Linked DNA regions of Homo sapiens: region 1 is linked to region 2. A link means that fine-mapping ties the variant in region 2 to the expression of a gene that starts in the linked region. Tissue or cell type: whole blood. Region 2 holds a variant in brackets; the other region holds the start of a gene. All regions are shown on one strand. Distances are from middle to middle.

Evidence for each region. PIP is the estimated chance that this variant, and not a neighbour inherited with it, causes the effect.
Region 1: ABHD13 starts here. The variant in region 2 is fine-mapped to the expression of ABHD13 in whole blood (TOPMed, PIP 0.96).

The regions. Positions count from the first base shown.
Region 1 is chr13:108,214,425-108,229,314 of GRCh38, forward strand. It overlaps ABHD13 (abhydrolase domain containing 13), which reads left to right and starts at 3,968. Exons shown (of 2, transcript NM_032859.3): 1 at 3,968-4,235; 2 at 14,775-14,890. The coding sequence starts at 14,795. LIG4 (DNA ligase 4) reads right to left here and starts at 1,112. Exons shown (of 3, transcript NM_206937.2): 1 at 1,060-1,112; 2 at 114-186. RefSeq lists enhancers at 1,037-1,331, 3,641-3,970 and silencers at 1,175-1,314, 4,251-4,490.
Region 2 is chr13:108,252,618-108,268,804 of GRCh38, forward strand. No RefSeq gene overlaps it. Among named protein-coding and RNA genes, the nearest start is that of TNFSF13B, 9.0 kb to the right of the region's middle. The variant C/T (reference allele first, on the strand shown) is at 8,795.

The DNA.
Region 1 (14,890 bases), 39 kb before region 2:
TCCAATGCCCCCTGTACCCTCTCGGAAAATGGAAAATCCCTAAGGAGTCTACATCATTCCTCTGCCCGTTCCCCCTACTCTCCCCCAACCCTTCACGGATTCCCAGTGAATACCTGGCCTCGGGCAAGCTCCGTTACCTCTGTGAACCAGAGAATCCCAGCTGTAAAATGAGATCTTGATGGTTTCCTGCGGGGTTGCCATGAGAAAGAATCAACATGTACGCAGGTAAAGCAGGCAATACAGTTCCAGGGAGTCAAAAACGGGAGAAATCGTCCCACGACCTGGGGCTTGGGTCTAGATGAAGAGCACAGCATCAGGAGGCCAGGCTTCTAATGCGGCGCAGTCTACAGCGCTGTGGACTCGGCAACTCCCATCACCTGCCGCTGCACAAACACCCTGCTTGCTGCCCCCATAGACCGACCCCCGCCTGACGCCTCCCAGACCCCCCCACCTGACGCCCCTCAGGCCCCCCGCCTGACGTCCCAGACACCCCCACGACCGGATCCCCCAGACCCCCAATCTGACGCCCCACTTCCCCTACTTGACTCCCCACACATCCCCCGCCTGACGACCCCCCGACCCCCGCCTGACGTCCCAGACACCACCCATCTGATCCCCCAGACCCCCAATCTGACGCCCCACACCCCCCACTTGACTCTCCACACACCCCACACCTGCCACCCCACGTAAACCCCGCCTGACACCTCACAGACCCTAACCTGACGCCCCACAGACCTCCCCCGCCTCCTGCCGCCACACACACCCCAAACCCCGCCCCGAACACCCCCCACCTGCCGCCCCACAGATTCCCCCCTCTGACGCCCCACAGACCCCCAACGTGACGCCCTACAGACCCCAACCTGACGTCCCACAGATACCCCGCCTGACGCCCCACAGACCTTCCCCCGGTCTGTTGCCCCACAGACTTCTCGCCGCCTGCTGGACCACACCTTCCACTTGACTCCCCCCACACCGTCAATCTGCCACCCCCCACCCCCCCCACCCCAACCCCCCCCAACCTCCCAACCGCCCCCACCTGCCACCCCACACCCTTCCCACCTGACGTCAAGCCTGAAGCTCAGCCGCTAAGCCGGAAGCTGGCGCCAGAAGATGCCGGTTCCGCCAGCTGCTCGCCGCGCAGGCGCAGGGGAGACCCGGGGCCTTGCAGTCACCGGGCTCAAGCACGCCGGCGCAGCCAGGCTCGCGATGGGAGGTGGGGGGGCCGGCAGCCCCGTGGGGCTGCGGAGGCGGGACCTGCAGGATCCTGGTTAGGGTCTTGAGTACACACGGCTCCTATTGGCCTCGGCAGCAGATGCTCTCTGCAAGCAGTTGATCCACACGCCAGTGGATTTTGTCTCGAGGGAGACCTAAGATCACTTTGTGCTCTGGCTAGTGATAGCCTCTAATTCTTGTTCTCTGTACGTAAAACAGTGGTAACTATACTGATTTCGCTGGTTGTGAAAACTCCCAAGAGAGAACAGGACATCCTCCCAACTCAAAACGTTGGTTGTTTCATTTAAACTTTTAAAAAATAGGCTTTTGCAAACTATATAGAGCTGTTTTTTTTTTTAAATGATGTTTGCTACTGTGGTCTCAGTTCTCTTAATACAGAAATAATACATAACAATACATAACTTACAATATAGAAATAAACCGTTGCATGACCAGAAATCAACTATGGACTCTTCTAGTATCTGTTTAAGGTTTAAAAATAAAGTTATTTAACAAACCTTTATTGAGCACCTATTATTATATAGTAATGGTGCTAGATATTCAGGGTGGAGAGATTATAAACAACCCCAGTTTTTGTGTTCCAGGAGCTGTTGGTTTCCACCGAATTTTTGCTGTGGTCAGTCCTCTTTCGCCATGGAGAAGTGAGAAGTTATTCATAAAGAGGGGTGGAAACAACTTTTAGAACTATTTTATTTTAGCATAAAATATTGCTTTACAATAAAATAAATTTTGCTGCAGTGGGCCCTGATAAAACATATTAGAGCTGTTAAGTGCCCTTAGAGGTTGTGTAATGTATAAAAACCTCCTTTTTCAAAACTGACACATTTCATTCAGTGCTAGTTTGTAGCGGAGGTTCCGTCTAGCCCAAGAACATTCAGTTATTTACTTCGTATGTCTAATTGACCTAATATGCCTGAATATCTAAAATCATCTGTGATGTTGTAAAGTCTCATGATATTGTTTTGTGAGTATCTGCTCTTCAATTTAGTTATCAATTTATTTTGGAGGAAAAATGAATAGTGTTAAGGTAGAGGAGCCTCCACTTGCCCATCTTAGGAGAGGGTACCTATCCGTGTACATTTGTAGCTTGTTCAACCTCTACTGAGCTCCTACAATGTCAGAAGCTGGACTTTGTATTAGTTACATGAGAAGAACCATGAATTATGAAACCAGGCAAACTCCAAATTGATTCAAAGCCCAGTCTCCATTTCATCATGTTATTTTAGTTGATTGGTTCAAAGACAATCAAGGGTTTTTTTCACTAAGTATCTTCTAGAGTTGCCATGATTATTAATTTATTTATGTAAATGGTCTACTTTATATATGCTTGGCACTTATTCCGTGATCAAGATTAGGAAGCTATGATTCAAGAACCCAGCTTTGACCTGGAGCTCTCCATCTGGTAGCAAGACACATATGTTCAATAACAACAACACCACAGGCCGGGCCAGTGGCTAATGCCTGTAATCCCAGCACTTTAAGAGGCTGAGGTGAGCGGATCACTTGAGGTCAGGAGTTTGACACCAGCCTGGCCAACATGGTGAACCCCCGTCTCTACTAAAAAATACAAAAATTAGGCCGGGCCTGGTGGCTCACGCCTGTAATCCCAGCACTTTGGGAGGCCGAGGTGGGTGGATCACCAGAGGTGGGGAGTTTGAGAGCAGCCTGGCCAACATGGTGAAATCCCGTCTCTACTGAAGAAAAATACAAAATTAGCTGGGCGTGGTGGCGCATGCCTGTAATCCCAGCTACTCCGGAGGCTGAGGCAGGAGAATCGCTTGAACCCGGGAGGCGGGAGGTTGCGGTGAGCCGAGATCTTGCCATTGCACTCCAGCCTGGGAAACAAGAGCGAAACTCCGTCTCAAAACAGCAACAAAACAAAAACAAAAAGTAGCGGGGCGTGGTGGCGGGCACCTGTAATCCCAGCTAGGTCAGAGGCTGAGGCGAGAGAATCGCTTGAACCAGGGAGGCGGAGGTTGCAGTGAGCCGAGATCACGCCATTGCACTCCAGCCTGGGCGACAAGAGCGAGGCTCCATCTCAAAAGGAAAAAAAAAAAAACCCACAGATTTATGAAATATCCTCTGTATATATAAAATAGGGGACATAGAATAAGGAAAGCCCAAGGGAGGGGAGGCACACATCTGTAAACAAGTGTGTACACTTCAGTGCACAGGGGGGTTGACAGCGAAGCTAATGAAGCCCAAGTTTTAAGGGCCCATTTTTGCGAACACTTCCAAGGCCTTGAGAGGGGCCCTAACGAGGTGTTCCCATGGTCGTGTACCTCGGTAAAATTTGCAAAAATAAGACAATTTTACATTATTTTTCTTTAAAAGGGCTCTCCAAATGGCACAAGGTTCAGGCCTCACAAAACCTGCATTCGCCCTTGACAGTCCACTCTCGTAGAGGTAAAAGGAGAAAAATAGTTATGGAAGCGCTTTAAATCGTGGACCTCATTGCGACACCCTTAACAACCCTATCAGGCAGAACAAATTGCTCCGCAAACCTGCGGCTTGCAGAGCGATGGTGGACTCCCGAGCTCATCGGGTCCGGCACCTCTTCACCACGGAGGCCTCGGGTACGGAACTGGAGGGAGTCCTGGTGCTCGGAGGAGGGTGGAAGGCCAAGATCCCTAGGTCCTGGAGCAGGGAGCCGGGCCCACGCCGCCGAGGTATCTTTTCCGTCCGGGCCACCGTCGCGGGGGCTCACTGGCAGCGGCTTCTGCGCATGCTCGGAAGAGCGGGCAGGGTTCCCACTCCGGGAGCGGAGACGGAGAACAGGTTATGTGGGAGCCGGCGGGGGCATTTGCCGGCGACACCCGAGCGGGGGCCGGAAGTGGGGCCACAGCTCGCAGCAGGAGCTCCGGGCTAGACCGTGGCGCCGGCAGCGGCCCCTGGGCTGGAGGAGGATGATGAGGAGCGACGGAAGCGACGCGGGGGTACGCTGCTGCGCGGCGCCCGGTTTCGTGCCCGCGGCCGACTGCGCAGCCTGTCCGCGAGTCTGAGTAAGTGCGGCTCGGGGACCCCGAGCCCGCGGGGCCCGAGCGCCGGTCCGCTCCTTCTAGGAGGGTCGCGGGGAGCCGCCGGCTCCTCCAGGCGGGCGCGAAACCCTCCCGGGAGGCTGTGGGGGGAGCCCCGGGGCTAGTGCGGCTTCCCCTGGGGGTCGTGCGGGGGCCGAGCGCCGGGGGTTGTGGAGGACCAGCCCGGGGTGCAGCCCTGCCGGCCGCCCCGACTCCGCTCACCACTCACCAGGGGAAGCAAACTGAAGCCAAATACCTGTTTTGGAAACTAAGGTGCGCGCATTGCCAGAGGCTCGCCGGGTGTCGTTTTGTAATTGGAACCTAAAACGTATCTTAGTGTTCTATGTCAATTGTATTTCCAGTAATGTGTACAAACCTAAGATCCCTAAAATCCAACCCTCCGCTCCCCCACCCTCCCACACAGACATGAAAAGTAAAATAGAATAATTCCAGCTACTAGGTTGGAGAGAGGGAGAGCCCCGATCTAATCACGACAGTAACAGGTTTAGACCTGTGAATATCATGACAGGAAGTTCTGGGGTTATTCAGGAAACATCAAAAAAGCACCCCATACAATCGAAGTCAATTTTGCTGTAGATTTTAGTCAACATTTAAGTAAAATGAATTACTAGTATTACTACCCAAGGTATCGAAACCAAAAAAAAGTCCGTCCCCATTTAACAACTCTTATTTATGTTTACTATGTGATAGTAACTGGATAGAAAGAGATGAGTATATTGGCTTTGTGTGTTGATATTGGATTTTTCACTGATCTCTTTTGACGGGAGGGGGTTCGTGGATCAATACTTATTTGTATGCATGCTTAGGGAAATCACTCGTCTTTGACTAAAATATCAAATTTTATTTTACTGTGTAAGATTTCTTGATTGCCGATTTAGTGTTAATGTCATGATATCCTACCTAAGACATCAGCTGCTCAATTAAATAATCGTTAATAGAGGCCCACTATGCATCAGGCACTGCTGCGTACAGAAAATGTAGAGTTGAATAGGACGAGGTCTCTGTCATCGAGGAACTCACAGCCTGTGTAAGCAGGTTAATTACGCTGTAATAGTAACTTCTGCCACGTAAGTTTGCACAAACTACAGAATGTGGAATGGGTGGCAGGAGGGAATAGGGGTCCAAGGAAAGCTTTCTAGAGGATCTACTACCTGAGTTTGGTTTTAACAGAGAAAGAGTGCATTGCTCTGATTACTTCCTGTGTTCAGATACGGTACCTCTAGGGAATCATATCCATTATTTGATCTAGGACTAATAGGGCTTCTAGTTGTCCTTACTTTCACATACTCTGCTATAGTACATAATTAAGTAATTTAAATTTTGTCTCATAGAAGTAGCTGCACTTAACACACTATTACATTTTATCTCAACAGTAGTTCAATTTAATCTTTCATCCTCCTTTTACATACGAGGAAATATATATTTAGAGAGGCTAAGTGAGTTGGCAAAAGCTACCTATCTCTTAACAGACCATGACTCAAAACACTGTCTCCTTTCCATTGCACCACACTGCCTCCCACTGACAGTTAACTTGGAATGATTAAAGCAAGCCAGGTACCTACAGGTAGCCCTTGGCACACTGCCCTCTTCTTGGGCACATCAAAGACCTCTTGGCATGTGGATAAGAGGGTTTACTAACCAAATTGCCCTGGGCTAACAATATAACTTAGTGATAGGTGCAGGAAACTGTTGGATCTAACATTTTCCCATGATCTCTTCTCATAACTTATCTCAGGGGAATCTATTTCTGTTTCTCTGTTTAATGTATTACCCAGATTCTGAAATCTTTCTAATCCTTGTTTAGTTGCCCCAGGAAAGTCTTAAGACCTTTAAATAGCCTTTTTTCGTGTGGACTTAAAAGATGCTCTAGTTCTTCTAAGTAAGATATTTTTCCTCAAATGACAGATTTTGTAATACATTATTATATTTTATGTTTCTGTTTCACATGGTGTGAACTCCTACAACAGTATATTCTGCTGAAATCCCTTGCAAAGATGTAGTATTTCCAGTACAGGGACTACATGCATTTATGAGCTAGCCTGAGAATCTAGATACTTCTAGTAAGGCTTCTAGTTGTACTTACTTTCACATACTCAATGTTATATAACACTGGTTTTATACAAAACAAATATTCTAAGTTTCATCCATCTAGTTTATAGGTAAAGTTTTAGAACATTGCCCATTTATAAATTGGAAACTTTGTGAATTTCATTATCAGTCTAACATCACTACAGTTTTAGGCTAGTGGATTTGTTTTAAACATTTCAGATATTTATAATCTCAGAACAAATTGTGGTTGGCTTCCATAGTAACAATAATCTCTCATTTTACTTCTGCCAGAGTTGACTCTATTTGCCAAGATTTTCAAGCATGAAAAAGCTACTAAGTAGCTGCCTGGTATAATTTTTGAGCTATCTGCTCATACAGATTTAAATCCTAGTTAAAGATGCTGTCTGAACCATCCAGTTATTATCCAGCATCTCCATAGGCAGTTACTGTTCATTTGTCCCATAGGACTATTAATACACACTTTTTCATTATTGATGGCATGTGGGTAACCATTAGGGAAATAGATAATTCATTCTGTGGTGTCTCCAACACCTTGATAGCAGCTATTTGTGTTTCCATTTCAGCTGTGCAGCTGGCATGGTTTCTTAACTTCCCAATGCTTAACAGAAGAGGAGAGAGATTGATATAAGAATACTGAATCTGAGTTCCACATTACTTCACATGTGATTGGAAGCTGTGATTCACCCAGAGTAATTAATGAGCCCATGGGGTGTGGGGTCCTCATTCTCTGCTGGGATGTGGATGTCGGCATTGACACACGAACTCCCTTTCCACTTTTTACAGTCTTCACTTGAACCTGCACATTTTTTTTAAATGTATGAACAGTTTTTATTTTTAAACAAGCTGTTCCCAAAATTATCAATCTAGGATGGACTTAAAGATCTTTAAAGAAATAATAGTGCCTTTATGACTTAGGACTTTTTAATTGTATTTGAAATTGTTTAGCCTTTTGCCAAATTGTTTTTCGGAAATTCATTGTAATTCACTATGGGTAATGCACTTTTTTGTATTTTTAAAAGACCATTTGCTGGTGGCAGAATCCGTAACTCGATATACAATATGCAAAACAATGTACACTTTTTTTTTTTTTTGAGACATAGTCTCACTGTGTCACCCAGGTTGGAGTGCAGTGGCACGATCTCAGCTCCCTGCAACCTCGACTCCTGGGTTCAAGTGATTCTCATGCCTCAGTCTCCCTAGTAGCTGGGATTACAGGCACGCGCCACCATGCCCGGCTAATTTTTTGTAATTTTTAGTAGAGACGGTGTTTTACCATGTTGCCCGGACTAGTCTCAAACTCCTGAGCTCAGGCAATCCACCTGTCTTGGCTTCCTAAAGCGCTAGGATTACACGCATGAGCCACCATGCCTGGCCCAATGTACACTTTTTAATTAAAAATAATTAGAATAACTAGAATTTAATTTGTAGGGCAGTTCTGACCTTCATTAAAATACAATTTTTATTGTAAAATGTTATCTATGATACAATAGATTTGTCTAATTTATTCTCCTACTAACCTTACGGCAATAATTACAATGTATTTACTCCTATACTTTTGAGTTTCAGTTCTTGATATATATAAGTTTTTATTTATTTTTAGTTTTTGGAGAAAATATTACTGGGTAAAAACCTTAAATATATTTATATATGTTATAATGCAGAAAGGATTTAAAAAAATGTAATATATCTTTCTTAATTTGAAGAAGGCAAGTCTCTGGGGCATAAGGCAATACAGTTATATGGTTAAATAGTATGGAACCGTGGTTCTCAAGCTTTTTGGTCTCAGACCGTTTACATTTTAGAAATGTAAAGATCCCAAAGATTTTTTTGTATGTATGTGGATTATATAGATATTTATTGTGTTAGAAATTAAAACTGGAAGTTTATAAAGTGTATAAATTAAAATTGGAAAACTGGAAGTTTATAAAGTGTATAAATTAAAATTGGAAAACTGGAAGTTTTAATTCATTTAAAAATAGCAGTAGTAAGTTCATTACATACTCACATAAATAAAATTTTATATAAAACAATTGTAATTACAAAAAATAGAGGTGTGGGATTATATTTTTGTAATTATCTTTAATGTCTGCCTCATAGAAGACAGGCAGATTATTAGGCTCTTAAAGTGAAACATGAAGAAAGTCAGGCTCACACAAATTTGTAGTTGTAAAGGGAAGAGTATTGTAGTAGAGAATTGTGGGTACTCGTTGGTACGACTCCATCACCCAACAGGAGGCACTTCCTTAAAGGTCAGTTATATTGTGCCATCTGAAACCTACATCAGAGAAATTGTTGTCTCTTGTTACATCAAAATCTGTTGGTTTGTAGTGAATTTTTTACTCACGTTTGCTTGATTTTGTGACACCATTCATTGGTCATTTGGAATATATTGGTTTATGGAGTTATGCAGATTTTTCCAAATGGTGACATGTTTAATATTAATAGATTACCACAGTGCCATCAAAAAGGTCCCTTAAGTGTCTAGGAGCTATTGGCAACCTCATTCATTTTCTAGTAAATATCTGCCAAACCTCTAAGTCTGAACAACCATAGTTTGTCAGTTGTCTTTTTAAATAAAAATGTTGTTACCTGAACAAAGCAGCTAGTTCAGCTCACAATTCAAATGTATTTCAATACATAGCACAAAATGCTTTATGTGCACTTCCAGTGTTGTCACACATTTGTCACACAATGTGTTAAAAAGATGTGTACTTGTTAGTTGAGATAAAATAATTTTTACTGCTTCTTCTTTGACATTCTTAAGTAAAACTGGATTATTCCCTCATTTACCGTGAGCTCATGGTGATAAAGAATACAGTGACTCCAACACGTGAGGCCACTACCTTGATTCTTACAAAGGCACCAGCAATTTTACCCATCATTGCTTATGCATCATTAGTGCAAGTGTCAAACAGTGAAAAAAGTAAATGATATTTTAGTATTATTATGAGCATAATACTGATCTTGTGGACCCCATTAGAGGGTCTTGGGGACCCTCAGGTTTCTGACCACCTTTTGAGAACCACTGGCATAGAAAGATCTCAGATTTAATAGAGCCCTCAAAGTTCATCCAGTTTAACAGCTCTAAATTCCTCTATGCTATCCTTGCCAAGTATTTATTTAGATTATGCTGAATACTTGCAGTTTCTGTGAATAATCGTGCTAAATGAATAAAAATAAGTGTCACAGACAGCTGTTTGATGGAAAGTAATAGAGATTCTTAATCCTGGAGTTATGTTTTGTCCTGCTTTTAAAACATTGCATAAGTTTCCACTTGGTTTCTCTAAGTAATCAACCTTGATGAAATCCAGAGACTACTAAAATTATGTTGTGAAGGAAAGATACAGCTAAGGTTTTGATTTTCCTTTGCTATATGTAATGACAATTGTCATCTTTCTTTGATTTTTCTTTGTCTGCTCTATAATTAAATGAACTTACGTTAGGTATGTAGTTATTTATATCCATATCTGTCTCCCGAGTACCTCAAGAGTTGCTTGAACGTTACTGAGTAGATCACAAGCTACTTGAGAGCAAGGACTGTATAGTATACTAGGATGCATTGGAATCTGATGACCATCTCTTACGGAAGAGGCTGGGAAATCAACTGTAGGCCTGCTTCAGTGGTCCACGCTGGGTTTCACAGCTCCCCTGGGAGCCTGCAGTGATATTCTGAGGACTCATACCATTCGTAGTGGGCATGACTTCAATATTGATCTCTTTTTCTAAAGCATCAGTTTATAAAATAGTTATTTAAATGAAATATTTTTCCTTAAAAATGGAACCATTCGTGATCCTATATGAACACAGGAGATGATTAGTAGACATCAGAGAAGCATGGCCATCACTCATGCCCTTAGCTGACTTACCATCCAGCTAACACTGTTAGCCAGCAAGGTGGTCTGAGAGCTTTACAGTTCTAGACGGCTCTTATTTTTAGTCTCAAATTGTTTATTGTATACCCGTCATGGACTTAAATTTAGAGACAGTAAGTAGGGAGCACTAGAGGTGACTACAACCAGCCAATTAGGACCATAAATCCTCAAGATGAGCACCATATATTAAATTGCATCAGATGATCAAACTACTTATGTAGTATAGCAGGATGTCACTAATACTGCAAAACCATTCTTGTAAAAGGAAAACAATCATATCTAATTTATACAGTACATGATAATAAAGATTAGTTATGCTTTCAGTAGATTATTTTTTGAGACACACTCACTAATATCAATGTGACACCTCAAACCACTTCATTTAGAAAGCACAAAAGTTGTTTCTAAGGTTGATTTTTTTTTCATTCAAATACAAGACTGGTACAGGTTATAATAAACTGTAATACTTAAATCTTAGCTACATATCCTGGGTTTTTAAAAAATGTATTTGTTTACACATCATGCTTTTTTTGTGTATAATTAGCATAAAGTCTGCAAAACGTTGGGAAGGGAGCAGGATGTGTTTAGTTTTGGATAAGTTTGAAATATCAGTGAAGCATCAGGTACGTGAGGAACAGGTAAATTGAGATTGTAGATGAAGAGTAGACTTGTAGATTGGGAATAATTCATACACAGGTGTGATAATTGGAGCCATGAAAAGGAATGAAATCACTGAGGGAAAGAACATAGTATCCTAAATGAGTGGAGAAGACCTTGGAAAATGCCTGCTTTTCGGGGTATAGGGCAGAGAGAAACAGCAATTTGAGTGTAGAGGAGAAGCCAATAGCAGATGACACTTTGGGGGTCTGGTGTTGCAGTGTGGATTGAGAAAAATCCACTAGATTTATTTTAAAGTGAAGTTTACATTGTATGAGAGATCATTATGAGAAGTCAGTCAGCAAGTTCTCAGATAGTAAATGGTTAAGGAGTTACTGGCGGTGGTTAAAACCACAGATTGGTGGGTTTTAGAAATGTCTGACATGTAATACCAGATCTGATAACATAGCAAACAGAAAATTGAGAAATGGGACTGTCAGGTATTCATTTAAGATGTAGACATAAGGTTAAAAATACATACAATAATGATGTAAAAGAAGACTGGAAGATGAGAAGTTATTGATTATCTACATTTCTATATTCTACATGGAACAGGTCTAATTGGCTCTCCTACTCAGCAGCCCTTCTAGTTGGTATAAGTTTGAGTGTATTAAATGCATCCTTTTTCCTGATTTTTATGATGCCAAGATGTTATCAGCAAATGGATTTCACATGCAGAAGAACCCAACAAATAATACATCTCCTCTGAAGACACGTTTTATAGGTGTTTTACCACATGGGACATACTTGATTGCTTCACTCATTCTTCATGACTAGTAGCAGTGGTCTTGGGGTCAATTGGACATTGATACTCACAAGACCCAGTATACCATAGTGGACCGTACTGTGCATCAGCCTTTCTGCTTTTTTGAAAACCCAACATGTCAGTGTTAGGTATATTGTTCCAGATGATAGCTCAGGTCTAGTGGAAAATGACACAAGGGTGGGAGTGAGCACCACCCTGGCTTAGCTGCTTCATGCTCCACAGGAAACAGTGTCTTTTTGTGACAGCATGTGAGTATAGCATCCAGGACTAAGCAAATGACAAGCCAATTACAGGTCGTATTCAATTCAGAAAAGCCCCTGTTTATACTTCCCACTGGGCATGTTTAGCCCTGCTCACTGTCCTCTCAGTCCAGATGTAGCTCATCAGTAGGAGCCATTTTTACTACACTGTTGCTTAGAAACACAGCTGATATCCCACCTTTATCAGGTTTCCAGGGAAACAGTGCAGGAAGGTTAAGGAGAGGTCATTTTTTATCTGAAGAGGGAGAAAGGTTTTGTTAACCGTTTACTCACACTAATTTATTGACAAAATCAATAGAAAACATAATGCTGGCTGTAGGATCCATGCAGTCGACTTTATTAGAGGCAGTGTTTGTTTCTATTGACTGTCATAACATCTGGGTATGAAGTTGTTTTTACATCTCAGCAGATGGTGCATGGTAATTATGCTTTGCTGATACTTTCAGCAAATTCAGTAAATTAAAAATCCTTCCTGATATTGTTCACTTGTCCTGGTTCCTTTAAGATCACCTTTGAGATGGAAATATATATCATACAGACTAGGGAACAGAGATTATTAGCAAGTGGGGTTAGGTAAAAATAAGGCAATCCGTGAGTGGAGTTCTTACTCTAAACCAGCAATATAAGAATATGTTAAGGAGAAAACACACCCATACCCACGCACTCCGCCACCCCAGAGCAATTTTTATTAACCTGTTCTTAAAAATGACTTCCATTTGATATTACTCAAGATGAATGGACTTTTATTCCGACTTCCATAGTGCAACAACTGATTGTGAGATTATGATTGTTTATCACAAAACAGTTTAGTTAATGTGACTTTTCAGGAATGTTTTGTGGAAAACGGTAAGTTTATCCCTTATTATTCCTAGCCAGTAATAGACCCAAACAAATACGCCCATTTTTCTGATGTTGTTTTAAACATATATGCCCACTGCTCAGAATACTTTTTTTAAAATAAATTGAATAATTCGTATATGTAATTAGATTATTTTAAAAATGTTTTAGTCGTAAGTATATATAAAGTGCTGTACTAGATATTAGAGATGCAATAGTGAAAAAGAGATATACAATTCCTAGTCTTATAAATTTTAATTCAGTATTTGCTAAAATTAGATGTTAGAGGCTACTAAAACGAAAATAACTTTTCAAAGTTCATTAGTTGAAAATTTAACTATGTAAATTGATATAAATGTAAATATAAGATTCAAATTTTAAAATATGCCTTATTCGTGTATTTGGAGCTATTTTATCTGGTTTTATATAATTTTTTAAGTAAGAACTAATTTGAGCAGAACACAGTAAGAAAGTAGTAGAGCCAGAAATACCAGTCACAAAAGCAAATAAAGTTAACATGTCTGTAACATTTATGAATGATCTCATTATTAATCTTACTTGATACTAATGACCAGCCTCATAGGTAAGCATTTTAAAAACTCATTCTACTGAAAAGGCAATTGAGACTGGAAATAAGTGATAAATAGTTATTCAGGGAGGATGTGATACTGTAATAAAACTTGCTACCACTGGGTGGCAGTGTTGATTTCTGGGAAATCAGAAAAATGTTGGTTTATGCTCAAAAAGGTTCAGTTCATTTGAATAATAATTCAAATGTAAAAGTCTATGTTTAGTGAAATAATAGAAAAAAATCAAATTTGTTAAATCATCCAACTCATTATTTGTATAATCAATCTATAACCTCTTTATAGCAGTTTGGTCAGTGGGAAAGAAGGAAATGTAGTATTTTTAAAAGTTCAGTAAATAAGCATAAGTAGACGAATAGTACATAAGAAAATTTGTAACATATCTCAATTCTTTTGCCTTTTTAAGACAACATGTATAAACCTTTTGATAACAAAAAATTCTCTTTTAATAGTTTTTACTTTCTTTATATCAGTTAACATATTTTAGTAATCTTTTTAAGAATTGTTCTCCAGTGAGTCATTTTACTTTATTTATCTCTGTTTCTCAGAGGATTTCTGTGTATTTGTTTCACACTGAACCCTCAAGTATTTATTGCCTTATCAATACATTTTAGCAATCTATTGACCCCAGGACGTGAAACTTCATTAAAGAGTATATAAAAGATACTGCCGATCTCATGACACTAGCAATATGATATTTATTTTTAATTACATATGAAAGATAAATCATTAATAATTTTCTTAAAACTAATACAATATTAGAATCTAGTGTTTAAGCAAATTATTTAAGTTTAGTATTAAAACTTCGAGGTAGAGGGGGGATACTTTTATTCTTTCTTTCCCTAGTTGTTTTTTTTTGTTTTATTTTGTTTTGCCCAACTCCTTACCCTAGTTTCTTTAGTTTTTGCTACCGTATGTGAAAAAAATTGACAAAGTATATTAGATTGGTCTTGCTATGTTGGAATTTCTGAACTGCCTTTTCAGTACAGTTTGCCCTGGACATACGTAACCTAACAGCAGATGTACCACAATCTCTAGAATCATGCTTGTTTGCCTCCCAGCTCTTCTACATTGAGAAGCAGATGATAGCCAGTCTACTTATGCCCCTGAGCTTCTGTTTTCTCATTAAAAAAAAAAAATGACACTATCGCATCAACTTTTTTTGGGTCAAATCCGTGAGAACACGTATATGAAGAATAAGCACTTGTTAAAAATGAGTTAATTTGAAGAATATTAGTGTTTCCTAAATATGACAGTGGAGGGATATGGTAGAAAGGAAACTGTTGAGAACAGAAAGGACAAGGGAAATTATAGCAGCTACTTTTGTGGATGGACTGTACCTATTACCATATTTAACAATTACATGTGGCCTAGTACCATAGTTTATTATATTGTGGATTTTTAAAAGAATAGATAGACGTTGAATTATTGATATTCTCCCTCTCTCTCTCTAGGATACTTACAGAGAGCTACAATGGAAAAGTCCTGGATGCTGTGGAACTTTGTTGAAAGATGGCTAATAGCCTTGGCTTCATGGTCTTGGGCTCTCTGCCGTATTTCTCTTTTACCT
Region 2 (16,187 bases):
CTATTCAGGCTTTTTTTTGGTTCCATATGAATTTTAAAATAATTTTTTTCTAATTCTGTGAACAATTTCATTGGTAATTTGATAAGAATGTCATTGAATCTGCAATTGCTTTGGGCAGTATGGCCATTTAAAAAATATTGATTCTTCCTATCCATGAGCATGGATTTTTTTTTATTTGTTTGTGTCATCTTTGATTTTTTGTGCAGTGTTTTGTATTTCTCATTGTAGAGATTTTTTTTCCTCCCTGGTTAGCTGTATTCCTAGGTATTTCTTTTTATGGGTAAAGTGAATCAGATTACATTCTCGATTTAGCTCTCAGCTTAGATGTTGTTGGTGTATAGGAATGCAATTGATTTTTTTACATTGATTTTGTATCCTGAAACTTCATGGAAGCGGTTTATGCCATCTCAGAGCTTTTGCACAGAGACTGTGGGTTTTTCTAGGTATAGAATCATATTGTCTGAAAACAGGGATAGTTTGATTTCCTCTCTTCTTATTGGATGCCTTTTTTTTTTCTTGCCTGATTGTTCTGGCCAGGACTTTCAGCACTGTATCAAATAGGAGTGGTGACAGAAAGTATCTTTGTCTTGTTCCGATTTTTAAGGAGAATGCTTCTAGGTTTTGTTCATTCAGCATAATGTTGGCTGTGGGGTCGTCATAGATGGCCCTTATTATTTGAGGTATAGTCCTTCAGTACCTAGTTTATTGAGAATTTTTAACACGAAAGGATGTTGAATTTTATCAAAAACCTTTTCTGCACCTATTGAGATAATTATATGGTTTTTGTTTTTAGTTCTTTTTATGACATTAATCATATTTACTGATTTGCATAGGCTGAACCAACATTGCATCCCAGGGAATAAAGCCTACTTGATTGTGATGAATTAGCTTTTTGATGTGCTGCTGGACATGGATTGCTAGTATTTTCTTGAAGATTTTTGCATTTATGTCATCAAGTTTTCTCTTTTCTGTTTAATTTCTATTGCCTGAAGTTTTCTGTTTTCCATCATATCTCTGCCAGATTTGGTGACAGTATGATTCTGGCCTCACAGAATGAGTTAGAGAGGAGTCTCTCCACCTCAAATTTTTGGAATACTTTCAGTAGGTATGGTTCCAGCTCTTCTTTATACATCTGATAGTATTTGGCTCTAAATCTGCCTAGTCCAGGGCTTTCCCGATTGGCAGACTTATTACTGATTCAATTTCAGAACTTGTTATTGGTACGCTCAGCGTTTCATTTATCCTGGTTCAATCATGGGAGGTGGTATATTTCCAGAAGTTTACTGATTTCTTCTAGGTTTTCTAGTTTGTGTGCATAGAGGTGTTCATAGTACACCCCGAGGGGTTTTTGTATTTCTTTGTGGTCAGTGGTAACATGTGCTTTGTCATTTCTGATTGTGTTTATTTGGTTTTTCTCTCTTTTTTCTTTATTAGTCTAGCTAATGGTCTTTCTCATTAATTCTTTCAAAGAACAAATTCCTGGATTAATTGGTCTTTTGTATTTTTTTTTCACATCTTAATTTCCTTCAGCTCTGATTTTGTTTTTTTTTATTTTTTTATTTTATTATACTTTAAGTTTTAGGGTACATGTGCACAATGTGCAGCTTTGTTACATATGTATACATGTGCCATGTTGGTGTGCTGCACCCATTAACTCGTCATTTAGCATTACGTATATCTCCTAATGCTATCCCTCCCCCATCCCCCAACCCCACAACAGTCCCTGGAGGGTGATGTTGCCCTTCCTGCGTCCATGTGTTCTCATTGTTCAACTCCCACCCATGAGTGAGAACATGTGGTGTTTGGTTTTTTTGTCCTTGCGATAGTTTGCTGAGAGTGATGGTTTCCAGCTTCATCCATGTCCCTACAAAGGACATGAACTCATCATTTTTTATGGCTGCATAGTATTCCATGGTGTATATGTGCCACATTTTCTTAATCCAGTCTATCATTGTTGGACATTTGGGTTGGTTCCAAGTCTTTGCTATTGTGAATAGTGCCGCAATGAACATATGTGTGCATGTGTCTTTATAGCAGCATGATTTATAGTCCTTTGGGTATATACCCAGTACTGGGATGGCTGGGTCAAATGATATTTCTAGTTCTAGATCCCTGAGGAATCGCCACACTGACTTCCACAATGGTTGAACTAGTTTACAGTCCCACCAACAGTGTAAGTGTTCCTATTTCTCCACATCCTTTCCAGCACCTGTTGTTTCCTGACTTTTTAATGATCACCATTCTAACTGGTGTGAGATGGTATCTCATTGTGGTTTTGATTTGCATTTCTCTGATGGCCAGTGATGATGAGCATTTTTTCATGTGTTTTTTGGCTGCATAAATGTCTTCTTTTGGGAAGTGTCTGTTCATATCCTTTGCCCACTTTTTGATGGGGTTGTTTGTTTTTTTCTTGTAAATTTGTTTGAGTTCATTGTAGATTCTGGATGTTAGCCCTTTGTCAGATGAGTAGGTTGTGAAAATTTTCTCCCATTTTGTAGGTTGCCTGTTCACTCTGATGGTAGTTTCTTTTGCTGTGCAGAAGCTCTTTAGCTTAATTAGATCCCATTTGTCCATTTTGGCTTTTGTTGCCATTGCTTTTGTGTTTTAGACGTGAAGTCCTTGCCCATGCCTGTGTCCTGAATGGTAATGCCTAGGTTTTCTTCTAGGGTTTTTATGGTTTTAGATCTAAAATGTAAGTCTTTAATCCATCTTGAATTAATTTTTGTATAAGGTGTAAGGAAGGGATCCAGTTTCAGCTTTCTACATATGGCTAGCCAGTTTTCCCAGCACCATTTATTAAATAGGGAATCCTTTCCCCATTGCTTGTTTTTGTCAGGTTTGTCAAAGATCAGATGGTTGTAGATATGCGGTGTTATTTCTGAGGGCTTTGTTCTGTTCCATTGATCTATATCTCTGTTTTGGTACCAGTACCATGCTGTTTTGGTTACTGTAGCCTTGTAGTATAGTTTGAAGTCAGTAGCGTGATGCCTCCGGCTTTGTTGTTTTGGCTTAGGATTGACTTGGCGATGCGAGCTCTTTTTTGGTTCCGTATGAACTTTAAAGTAGTTTTTTTCCAATTCTGTGAAGAAAGTCATTGGTAGCTTGATGGGGATGGCATTGAATCTATAAATTATCTTGGGCAGTATGGCCATTTTCACGATATTGATTCTTCCTACCCATGAGCATGGAATGTTCTTCCATTTCTTTGTATCCTCTTTTATTTCATTGAGCAGTGGTTTGTAGTTCTCCTTGAAGAGGTCCTTCACATCCCTTTTAAGTTGGATTCCTAGGTATTTTATTCTCTTTGAAGCAATTGTGAATGGGAGTTCACTCATGATTTGGCTCTCTGTTTGTCTGTTATTGGTGTATAAGAATGCTTGTGATTTTTGTACATTGATTTTGTATCCTGAGACTTTGCTGAAGTTGCTTATCAGCTTAAGGAAATTAAAAACACATGAAAAAATGCTCATCATCACTGGCCATCAGAGAAATGCAAATCAAAACCACAATGAGATACCATCTCACACCAGTTAGAATGGCAATCATTAAAAAGTCAGGAGACAACAGGTGCTGGAGAGGATGTGGAGAAATAGGAACACTTTTACACTGTTGGTGGGACTGTAAACTAGTTCAACCATTGTGGAAGTCAGTGTGGCGATTCCTCAGGGATCTAGAACTAGAAATACCATTTGACCCAGCCATCCCATTACTGGGTATATACCCAAAGGATTATAAATCATGCTGCTATAAAGACACATGCACACATATGTTTATTGTGGCACTACTCACAATAGCAAAGACTTGGAACCAACCCAAATGTCCAACAATGATAGACTGGATTAAGAAAATGTGGCACATATACACCATGGAATACTATGCAGCTATAAAAAATGATGAGTTCATGTCCTTTGTAGGGACATGGATGAAATTGGAAATCGTCATTCTCAGTAAACTATCGCAAGAACAAAAAACCAAACACCGCATATTCTCACTCATAGGTGGGAATTGAACAATGAGAACACATGGACACAGGAAGGGCAACATCACGCTCCAGGGACTGTTGTGGGGTTGGGGGATGGGGGAGGGATAGCATTAGGAGATATACGTAATGCTAAATGACGAGTTAATGGGTGCAGCACACCAACATGGCACATGTATACATATGTAACAAAGCTGCACATTGTGCACATATATGCTAAAACTTAAAGTATAATAATAATAAAGTTAAAAAAAAAGAAAAGATTACATCTTTTCACAAAGAATACAGAGATAAAACCAAAGAGTCAAATGACTAAATGTAGTTGAACAACTGAACCAGAACACATTTTTTTCTGAGTGCTAGTCCGGGATTCTGTGTCACACACTGCTGTCCTCTTAAGCCTTCAACAACACACAGATCCTCTTTGAGGTGCAAAATTCATGACCTGCAGAAGTTTACAAAATGTAATAGGTTCCCTTGTTTGGGACACAGTGAGAATTATAAATTCACAAGTCATTGATATTAAAGAGAAATTGCAGAGTGACTTTTAAAATAATGAAGATGGTAAATTGTATAATATATGTGTATTTTACCACATTTTTTAAAGTCAAAAAAATGCTTTTGATAAAGGATTGAAGATTAGTATTCTGAAATGCTGAATTTTCAGTAGTCACTAGTAGAGTACAGTTTATACTTATTTGATTTGACTTGTTATCCTTGGTTAATTGTTGCTAGTGTTGGTGGTTGATAGTGATAAGATTTTCACATGAATTTTACACTGCGCCACTTGTCCTGAGTGTGGAAATATCAACATTGGTCTGGATTGTGTTTAAATTTTGAAATTGTTGAAAGCTCATTATTCAATTTAAAGTATGTAAACAGCTGTTGCCATGAGATAACAGATTATGCTTTTGGTTAAAATTCTGGGAATCACCCACCAGTTTTTGTTTACTTTTTAATAACCAGAGGCTTATATTTAAAATAGACAAAAAATTAGCAAGTGCATTTTAAATTTAGTAAATTTAGAAGTAACCAACGACAAGTACAATTATGAACTCATACTGTCTCCACTACTAGACATGTTTTATGACTGTCTGAAAGTATCTAAAACAGATTTTATGAGTTTTCATATAAAATTATATTTCTGTTTTAGCAATCAGTCATGGTAATCAAACAATTTGAGGACAAGAGTCTTTATATTTGAGTAGCAGAAAAACACAAGGGAAATCTTTGATCCCTGATAGATCATTAAACAAAATAGAATTTAATTTTACTTAACATCATGTGTACACACACACACACACACACACACACACACTTTTTCTATTGTTTTTTTTTCACCATGGATACCGTGGATAAATTCTCAGTAGTGAGACTGTTGAGTTGAAGTGTAGATATGTTTTTAATATTTCTAGTATCATTAGATTGGCTTCCAAAACAACCTTATTATTTTACATTTTCAAACAAACCACCATGGCACGTGTATACCTATGTAACAAAACTGCACGCTCTGCACATATAAACCAGAACTTGAAGTGTATATATATATATATATATATACACACACACAAACACACACATACACATATATGTGTATATATATACATATATATGTGTATATATACACATTATATATAATGTGTATATATACACATATATATATGTGTATACGTATACACATATATATGTGTATATATACACATACCATAAAGCTGAAACCACTAAAAAATTATAGCATTGAAGACAAAGCTATAATATAAACACAATGATGTCCAAAAGAATTAATTCTCATCCAAAAGAATTTAAAAAGGGATAAGCCAAAACAATCCAGGTAATGAAATTAAATAAAGATAGCTAACACTGATGATTAATTATATATTGTTAGTTAAAACGTGAGCAAAAGTCATTCTTTATATAGACATATGTATATATAAAGAATGACTTTTGTATATGTATATGTATATATGTATATGTATATATGTATATGTATATGTATATGTATATATGTATATATGTATACATATATATGTATATGTATATGTATATGTATATGTATATGTATACGTATACGTATATATGTATATATGTATATATACATATATATGTATATATAAAGAATGTATATATAAAGAATGTATATATAAGAATGTATATATAAAGAATGACTTTTGTATATGTATATGTATATATAAAGAATGACTTTTGCTCACGTTTTAACTAACAATATATAATTAATCATCAGTGTTAGCTATCTTTATTTAATTTCATTACCTGGATTATTTTGGCTTATTCCTTTTTAAATTCTTTTGGATGAGAATTAATTCTTTTGGACATCATTGTGTTTATATTATAGCTTTGTTTTCAATGCTATAATTTTTTAGTGAGTACTGCTCTGGCTCATATGTTTGGTATAAGTTGTTTTCCCTTTTGTGATTTTCTAGGTAATTTCTAACCTCAGTTTCGCATACTTCTTTGACACAAACTTGACCTATGAATGTATTTTTACATTTTCAAGTAAGCAACTCTTTGATCACCTTTTTGTAATGATTTCTATTTTTATGAGATTATAATCAATGAATGGGATATATCACTTAGGTATTACTAAGTAATAAACCACCCTACTTTAGTGCCCTGTAACAGCTCCCCTTTATTATTTTTGTAATTCTGTGAGTTTTTCAGGTGGCTCTTGTGCCAGCTCCACCTGAGTTCATGTGTGTGGCCGCATGCCTCTGACAGCCAGGCTGGCTGGGGGTTCAAGATAGCCTCACCCACACATTTGGCAGTAAGTGCTGGCAGGTGGTTCAGGCACTTTAGTGGTTTTCAATGTATCTTCTCATCCTCCAGTAAGCTAGACTGACTTTCTTGCATGCGGGTCTCAGGGAGGCAGTCCTGTGTGTTCTACTGGTCAAAGCAAGCAATTCACAAGGTCAGTTCAGATTTAGGGGATAAGGAGACAGACCAACCTTATTATCAGTCACATTGCAAACAGGCATGCCACCAGAGAGTAGTTCTTCCAGTCTTTGCAAACTATCCGTCATGGTAGCCTGTAAAAGACTACTTTTTAAAGTTGTCCATTTTGATTAAAATTTTAAGTATCACTTGTGCATTTGGGGAAAAAGTTATCTTTTTGATAGACATAATTTATTATCTCCCTCTCATTTTTTAATATCTTTGCACTAAGTGTTATAATGTTAAATAATATAGCATCAATAACCATAAAGCTGAAACCACAAGAAAAACACCTGGAAATACACAGGAAAAAACATTAGATATGGGAAATTTTACTCATCTCTATTATTCTATGACATCATATAAACAAAAATGCAGATATTGTAGACTAAAATAATAAAATTATTAAGGATATCCCTTCTTTTCAAGTAGCTATGTTACATTCACACAAATGACAATACTATTAATCCCTAAAGAAACTCTGATTAAGCTTTATAAGTAGAAATTGTGAGAGAAAATTATCTGAATGCAATACGATAAAATAGAAGTTAGTGAGAAAAATGAAGAAAATTTCTGGAAATTAAAACAAATTAACAAATATCTCTTAAATAACTTTTAAGTCAAATTGGAAAGCCAAACAAAATTTTTAGATTAATTTATATTATTAATCGTTTCTAGAAAATAATAAGCACAATATATAAAAAACACAATAATAATAAAACACAATACATACCTGATATCATTGAATTTTACTAAGCAATGCTCTTGGGAAATTTAATAGCCTATCAACAAATAAGAAAAGAAATGAATGTTTGAACACTCAACTGAAGAAGTCAGACTAAAGAAAACAACAAAACAAACAAGTAGAATGAGACAATTCATAATGATAATAAACAGAACTATCTGCTGATTACTTATTTGACACTAACAAAACAGACAAGTTTTTGCTATTCTTTCAAGAATAAAAGGAGAAATTGTATGCAGACAATTTTTAAAAAAAATGCTTAACCACAGATACAAAAGAAATGGAAAATCAGATGAGAAACTGTTTTGTATAAATTTATCAAGTAAAAATTGAAATCATTTAAAATGATCTTATACAATAGAATTTAACTCCATGACACAGGAGTTTTCTTTTTTCTTTCTGACTTTTTTTCTCTCTGTTTTAATTTTTGTATGCCTAGTACCTAGAACAATACTGAAAGAGTGGATGGTGAATATCCTTCCTTTGCAATTGGTTTAGCTACTTTGTTATTTCATTTTTTTTTTGTATTCAAGAGAAATGCATGTATACTCCAATTTCCCCTTAATTTTACACACAAATTTATTCATAATATCCTCTTACCTGTTTAGGATCTGTAATAGCTCTAAAATGTCCCGCTTTTAAAATTTCTGTTATTGAAATTTCATACTTTCTCCTTTGTACTGTGTCTTACTACAAATTATTAATTTTATTTGTTATGTCAAATAACCAATTTTTAATTCTCTTTATTGTAAAGTTATTATTTATTTCATTAATCTCTTTTATATTTTTTACTCCAATCTTTAAGCTTAATTTGTTTTCACCTTTTAACTTGTTAGGGCTTTGTGACCTGTATGCTCAGATTATTTCTTTCCATTCTTCTTTTTAAAACATGCCATCAAAGATATGATTTTTCTCATAAAAATAGCTTTAAATGCATTTTACAAGATTTTATATACTTTATTTTCATCATATCCCAACAACTCTTTCTATATTCAGTAATACCATCAGACCTTACCTGGGTCGATTTTTCTCAGCATCCTTTCCTTCCTTCCTCCCGTCCTCCCTTCCTTTCTTTCTTTTCTTTCTCGGAGTCTCCCTCTGTAGCCCAGGCTGGAGTGCAG[C/T]GGCGCGATCTCTGTTCACTGCAAGCTCCGCCTCCCGCGTTCACACCATTCTCCTGCCTCAGCCTCCTGAGTAGCTGGGACTACAGGCGCCCGCCACCACGCCCGGCTAATTTTTTGTATTTTTTTAAATAGAGACGGGGTTTCACCATGTTAGCCAGGATGGTCTCGATCTCCTGACCTCGTGATCCGCCCAACTCGGCCTCCCAAAGTGCTGGGATTACAGGCGTGAGCCACCGCGCCCGACCTACTTGCTTATTTTTCTTTTCCAAAAAGCTACCCATACAGATTTTCTCAGCATTTTAACCTAGGACTTGATAAGCTAATTCAAACTGTAGTTTCAGCTCTTTCATAGATTAAGAAGCATTATTCTTTTCTCCTGTAAGTTTTTATGTCATTGCCTCTATTTAGTCTATATCCTCTCCCTCCTTTTATGTTCCCATTTTTCTTGCATGTGAGTTGCAAAACACTCTTGAGTTTTGAGATTTTACTTCTATTTGAGCCTGCAGGCCAGTAACTCAGTGCTCAAAAGTGACCATCCTTTTCTTCAATGCATGTATTAAATTATTTAATTGAAAACTATAGAGATATTTTTTAGTTCCTAAAAAGTTTCTTCAGTTGAATCTTAAGTCCTCTATTAGTTTTTAAAATTCAAGTTGTCTCCATCCCTTTGTGTTGTGTGTATGCTGGGATGTTCTGTGCTCTCCTTCTTTGATGGTTTATCTCTCCCTCTCTCTCTCTTTTTTTTAATTTTCATTGGAAGACGTTTATTTAGTCAGCATTTAACAGAGAATAGCAGAATCCATGAAGGACAAGTGTTCCAGGCACTAGAGATACAATAGGCTAGAAACCACACATTTCTGCACTCATGGAGCTGAACACTCTTAGTTTATCATTTCTTTCTGTACATATCTTCCCTACTTCCACCCTACCCTCTGCCATAATCTTTTTAAAATATATATATAAATGGCTTCATTTTCACATTTCACACAACCACAGCTGTGCATGCAAAAACACTGCAGTCTAGCCACTATTTATACGTCCAGCCACTTCTTGCATCTCTCCCGATATCCCAATTTCAAGCTTTCTCTCTTCAACACCTCCTGTGTTTGATTTGATGGCTCAGCTGGGGCAGTCTAGCCTCAGGAGGTGGGAAATCAAGTCCTGTCTAACCCTATGAGCCAGGATTGGACTAACAGGGAAACTTCTAGTCTACTCTGAGGCATTTGGGGGAGGCTTTTGTTTCTTGTGATCCCCTGATAGTCTCTCAGCTTTAGGGGCAGGGAGGACTAACCCCAAGCACTTACTCCCTTTGTGGGTACTCAGAGGCCCGGGAAACTTGGCATATTCCTGTGAGGCTGATGTTAGCCACTGCCTGGGGCCCACAGATTTCTGCTCAACCATTCTATCTAAGACCCATTGAGACTTGGGTCTCACATATAGTACTGCAAATACTCTCGAGAAATAAACCTCAAACATTATTTTTCTCTATCTAGGGCCAATTAGAGCAAAAAGCCCCTCGCTAACACCCAATTACCTCTAAGTTCTACTGCAATTTGGCTCAGAGAAGAAAGATAATTTACAGTTGTTAGTAAAGGAGAAGAAAGATGCATTCATGTTGCAGTTTTCTCAGAATACACTATATCTCTCTTACTTTTTCTTAGTTTGAAATTATTCCCTTCTTACACGGAGATGCACAAATTCTAATTTTGCATTTTTTTTTCTGAAAGAGTTGACTACGTTTTTTTGGTTCCACATAGAAAAGACAGATTCATTAAACACATCTTCACATAATAATAATTTTTCTTAAGATTCCTAACATATTAAAGAGCTTAAATTATTAAAAAATAGCTATATTAAAACTGGATGTAAGACTCTTTTTTTTTTTTTTTTTGAGATGGAGTCTTGCTCTGTCGCCCAGGCTGCAGTGCAGTGGCACAATCTCGGCTCACTGCAAGCTCCACCTCCCGGGTTCACGCCATTCTCCTGCCTCAGCCTCCCAAGTAGCTGGGACTACAGGCGCCCGCCACCGCGCCTGGCTAATTTTTTGTATTTTTAGTAGAGACGGGGTTCACCGTGGTCTCGATCTCCTGACCTCGTGATCCACCCGCCTCGGTCTCCCAAAGTGCTGGGATTACAGGCATGAGCCACCGCGCCCGGTCAAGACTCTTCTTAACAAATGAATTAGTTTTTCTAGCTTGTGGGTGTTGACCTTTTCTCTTTACACCGTAGTTTCAAAAAGTGGACATTTGGAAAATTTCTGAAAGAACATTTAAAACTCTCTTATACAAAGTTCTTTGGTTGTAAGAATACAATTCTTACAACTAGCAGAATTAGTATGTCTTTGGATCCTAATCAACTGCTAATCTAACTAGCAGATTTAGGATGTCTTTGGATGAATTAACACCTAATCTTGTCTCACATTGGCGTAAACAGTTAGGAAATAGTATGATCCAAATAACAAGCATGAAGAGTTGAGTAATCCAGCAGGACAATTATGTCCTTACAGAGCCAGGTTCCCTCCAGAATCCTGTTCTTGCCGTCACTGTTTCAGTCTGGGCCTGACGGCAGTTGCAGGATGGCAGTTCTCGGTGATCACAGACAGGCTTGTAATGTCTAGTGGAAGAAGAGCATCTCTTTCTTGTCAATCTCTTTAAGAATGAGGAACTCTTTCTTAGCAGTGCCCCCAGGAGACCACCTCACAACCAACTGTAAAAAGCCTCTCTCATTTGTCCCTCCTTAGCAATCAGTGGTGATGTAGATGGAGTCATCGTGAGTAGATTTCATGATTAGGACTTCCCTAAAGTGTGAGATTATGTCGGCATCCCACAGAGATAGATATCTAAACAAAGTCAGCGTCTAGATTTGGGGCAAGAAAGATTCTGTTAAGATGGCGAAGCAGAATTGGGCATACAGATGCTTCTGGCTTCAGAGCCTACACTCCTAAACCCATCCTCTTCTCAACATTCAATAAGCGAAATTTCAAATAAATCATTAAAATATTTGCAGTCCATTTAATTTTAATTTATTTGTTTTATTGATACAAAACAGATGCACATATTTTCAGAGTATATGTGATAATTTGATACATCATATAATATGAAAAGAACAATTCAGAGTAACTGGGAAGTTAATCACCTTCAATATTTATCCTTTTGTTTTGTGGGAACATTAAAATGATTCTCTTCTAGCTATTTTGAAATGTAGAACAGATTAATGCTAACTCTAGTTGCCCTACTAATCTATCAAGCATTAGGTTTTATTTTTTCTAACATAAATCAACCTCTCTTCATCCCTCCACCCTTCTTCCTACTCTTCCTGGCCTCTGGTAACCACCTATCTACTCTCTATATTCATAAGACCTACCTTTTTAGCTCCCACATATGAATGAGAACATGTGATATTTGTCTTTTTATGCTTGGCTTATTTCATTTAGCATTAGTGACCTCTAGCTGGTGAGAATGTGGAGAAAGGGAACGCTGGTGCACTGTTAGTGAGAATGTCAATGAGTACAGCCACTATGGAAAACAGTATGGAGGTTCCTCAAAAAACTGAAAACAGAACTACCATACTTAAGCAATTCTATCACTAGGTCTATATCCAAAAGAAAGCAATCAATGTATCCAAGAAATGGATCCAAGAAATGGATTCATTCATCCAATCAATGAATCATGTTGATTCAGCACTATTCACAATAGCCAAAATATGGACTCAACCTAAGTGCCCATCAATAGATGAATGAATTTTAAAAATGTGGTATAATACAGTGGCCTACTATTCAGCCATAAAAAGTAAAATCCTGTCATTTGTAGCCACCTGGATGAGCCTGGACGACATTATATTAAGTGAAATAAGCTAGGCACAGAGAGACAAATACTGTGTAATCTCACTTATATATGCAATCTTACAAAGTTGATTTTATTGAAGTAGAGAGTAGGAGAGTGGTTACCGGAGGTATTGGGGTGGAGGTTTGTCACCTGGTACAAAGTCAGGGTTAGATAGGAAGAACGATTTCCAGTGTTCCATTGTACAGTAGGGCGGCTATAGTTAACAATAATATATTATATATTTCAATAGAGCTAGAAGACAGGATTTTCAAAGTTCTCACCAGATAGAAATGATAAATGTCTAAGGTGATGGATATGCTAATTTTCCTAATTTGATCATTACACATTGTATACATATATCAAAACATGACACTGTATCTCATAAATATATATGTGTCAATTAAAAATTTTTTAAATTAAAAATTATATACAGTGATTAACATTTAGCCTTTCAAATCAAATTTAACTATATAATAACTTAACACACATACTCTCTCTCTCTCCATTATATATAATATATATATAAAATATATAATATATAAATATTTTATATATATATAATATTTCTACTGGAAAACAGCATATTTTCCTGAAATGCAATACTTAACCTATATCATAAATCTTCCATATTCTGAGTGCTTTAGGATACCAATTTTATCTAGATGTAATTTTAGGTACATTTACAGATCGAGTACATTCACAGATCTAGAAGAGCTGTTGTCGCCATGCTTGACTGGTCTAAATCCTTTTCCTCAAAGGATTTTGAGGAAAACACGCTTTTCCTCAAAGAAAAAGGGCAAAGGAGAGATTCCTCAAACCTGTAATTCTTTATAGCACTATTTAGCCAGAAATTTATAATTCATTTTTAAAAATATTTTTGAGGTTGTCAATGTAAGAACATAGTCAGAGAGTGAATGTTTATTTTCTGCTGTTTCTGACTCCCGGACAAACTCACAAGTTATATTCTTTTGAATCCTATCTGCCTATTTCTGAGTGGATAGAACAGTTTCGTCAGTCACAAAGTCCTAGTATCTCAGTTTGTTTATTGAATGACAGAAGAATGCTTTACACTTACATTGAGAAAAAGATGTGTGTAAAAAGCAGCTAAATACTGTCAATAAACACTGAATGTATAATAAGATCGCTGCACAATCTGTGGCTCAGATACAGTGGCCTTTTGTCCCTGAATAAACTTGTGATGTGGTGTATTATTCAATGAACGTGAACATGCTTCTTGTTTAACAGAATTTCTGTTAAATTATTGCCAAACCATTTCCTCTTCCGGAAACAGATTCTTGATTTATGGAGTAATGACTTCCTTTTGTTCATCTAATAAGAGATTCAAGAGTCATGAATGTCACTTCGTTTTCTACCTGTCTTTAGAGAAAATGCAGCTGTCAGATCCCTGTGGAGGATGTGCACATTGCCATCCCTGCTTGCTGTCCCTCTAGCCAGAGGGACATGATGGCTGCCCTTTGTGGAAGAAGAACTTGCCCATTTTATGCATGGCACGGCTCACTGCCGCAACAAACATCGGCACTGGTTTAAAAATGGCTGCGTGCAGGCTGGCCAGTGACTCTCTTTTGAGATGTTCAGGCATGAAAGTCTCTGCCCAACACAGTGACGAAGGCAGAGGGAATTCCCTAAAGCAGTCAAATCATTCCCTGTCTTCAGAATTTTCTCTGAGGGATATAGAGGGGAACGACTCACCAGAAGAGGGAGAATGTCCATGGATGGAGAGAAGCAGTGGCTACAGGAAACCCTGAGTGAAACGCAGAGAGAAATTGCTTTCTAGCACTGCGTTGCATCCTTTCATTTCTGCATGTATTTAAATCATAAGAATACACAAACACATCATCTAAAGGATCTCAATGACTTTCAGTAAGAAGGCCTTCATACAATTCCCATACGAATTCCATTTTTTATGGCAAGGTTACTCCGTATGACTCACCCTAATTGTTCTGGAACAAGAACTGACAGAAAAGAATTGGACTGTCATTCCTGATGCAAAAGGGTTTACAAACATCCTTCTAAAAGAAGACTTCCACCTGAGAAGGTTGATGGAGGACCTCTTGTCTACGTACCTGTTAGACTGGGGCACGGTCACCTTATTGTGGGAGTTATAGGTAAGAAAAATTAGAGAGCAGCTTATTTTGGGGGCCAGGATAATAACAAGTTATTTTTAAAAGGTCTTGGAAACTTGCAGATGCAAAGGGAAAAAAACAAAAAACAAAAAACAATCCTAATGGTAAAAACAAGTAAGTCTGACTGCGTCATTTTGTAGTAAGACAATGAGGAAATGGGAACTCGTCAGAGGGTAACTGGGTGGTGCCTGTAAAAGTGAAGATGTGCTTCTCCCTCAGCAGGCATTTGCTGGGAAACCCTTGCAGACGTTACAAGCACAGTTGTAGAAAATATCTATTAGAGCACTGTTTGTAACTGAAAAATGTTTCATTCATACTTTGAATGTAAAGAATAAAAGTGAATGAAAAAATGGAAGCATTGCACCGTGCTTTTGATTTACATTTCCCTGATCATTTAGTACAACCACCATGGAAAACAGTGTGGAGATTCCTTAAAGAACTAAAAGTAGAACTACCATTTGATCCAGCAATCCCACTACTGGGTATCTACCCAGAGGAAAAGAAGTTGTTATACGAAAAACATACTTGCACACACATGTTTATGGCAGCACAATTCACAACTGCAAAAATATAGAACCAGCCCAAATGCCCGTCAATCAATGAGTGGATAAAGAAACTATGATACATATATATGATGGAATACTACTCACCCATAAAAAGGAATGAATTAATGATGTTCGCATCAGCCTGGATGGGATTGGAGACAATTATTCTAAGTGAAGTAACTCAGGAATGGAAAACCAAACATTGTATGTTCTAACTCACAGTGGGAGCTAAATTACAAAGATGCAAAGACATAGGAATGATCTAATGGACTTTAGGGACTCAGGGGAAAGGGTGGGAGGGGGGTGAGGAATAAAAGACTAAAAAATGGGTTCAATGTGTACACTGCTCGGGTGATGGGTGCACCAAAATCTCACAAATCACCACTAAATAACTTAACCATGTAATCAAATACCACCTATTCCCCAAAAACCTGTGGAAATAATTTTTTTTTAAATGGAAGCATCCAAAATGTAATTTGTTTCCACATTCTTGTAAGCCTCATTATGTATCCCAGGGACAGTTAATATCGTCATACGAATTCACAGGTGAGGAAATGGAATCACAGAGAGATTATGTACTTTGCATAAGGAGAGCGAGGGTGAGGCAGGATTTGCAGTCTAGAAGCCTGGGTCTGGAGTTCTCCACTTTGCACTATATCATTTCTGTAAACTTCTTACTTAAGACTGTGTGGAAATGTAGAGTGAGACAGAACTAAAGCTCACTATTCTTAGTCCACAGGGGAGTAGTGACTACCCAGGGCTTGGTAAGTGCTCAGTAACGTTTGTTGAAAGATGAATCAATATTTCAATGCTGGGGCAAAGCAGTGAAAAACTGGGGAATGTCCAGGAACCAGCCATCAGGATAAGGCAGGACTAGAAT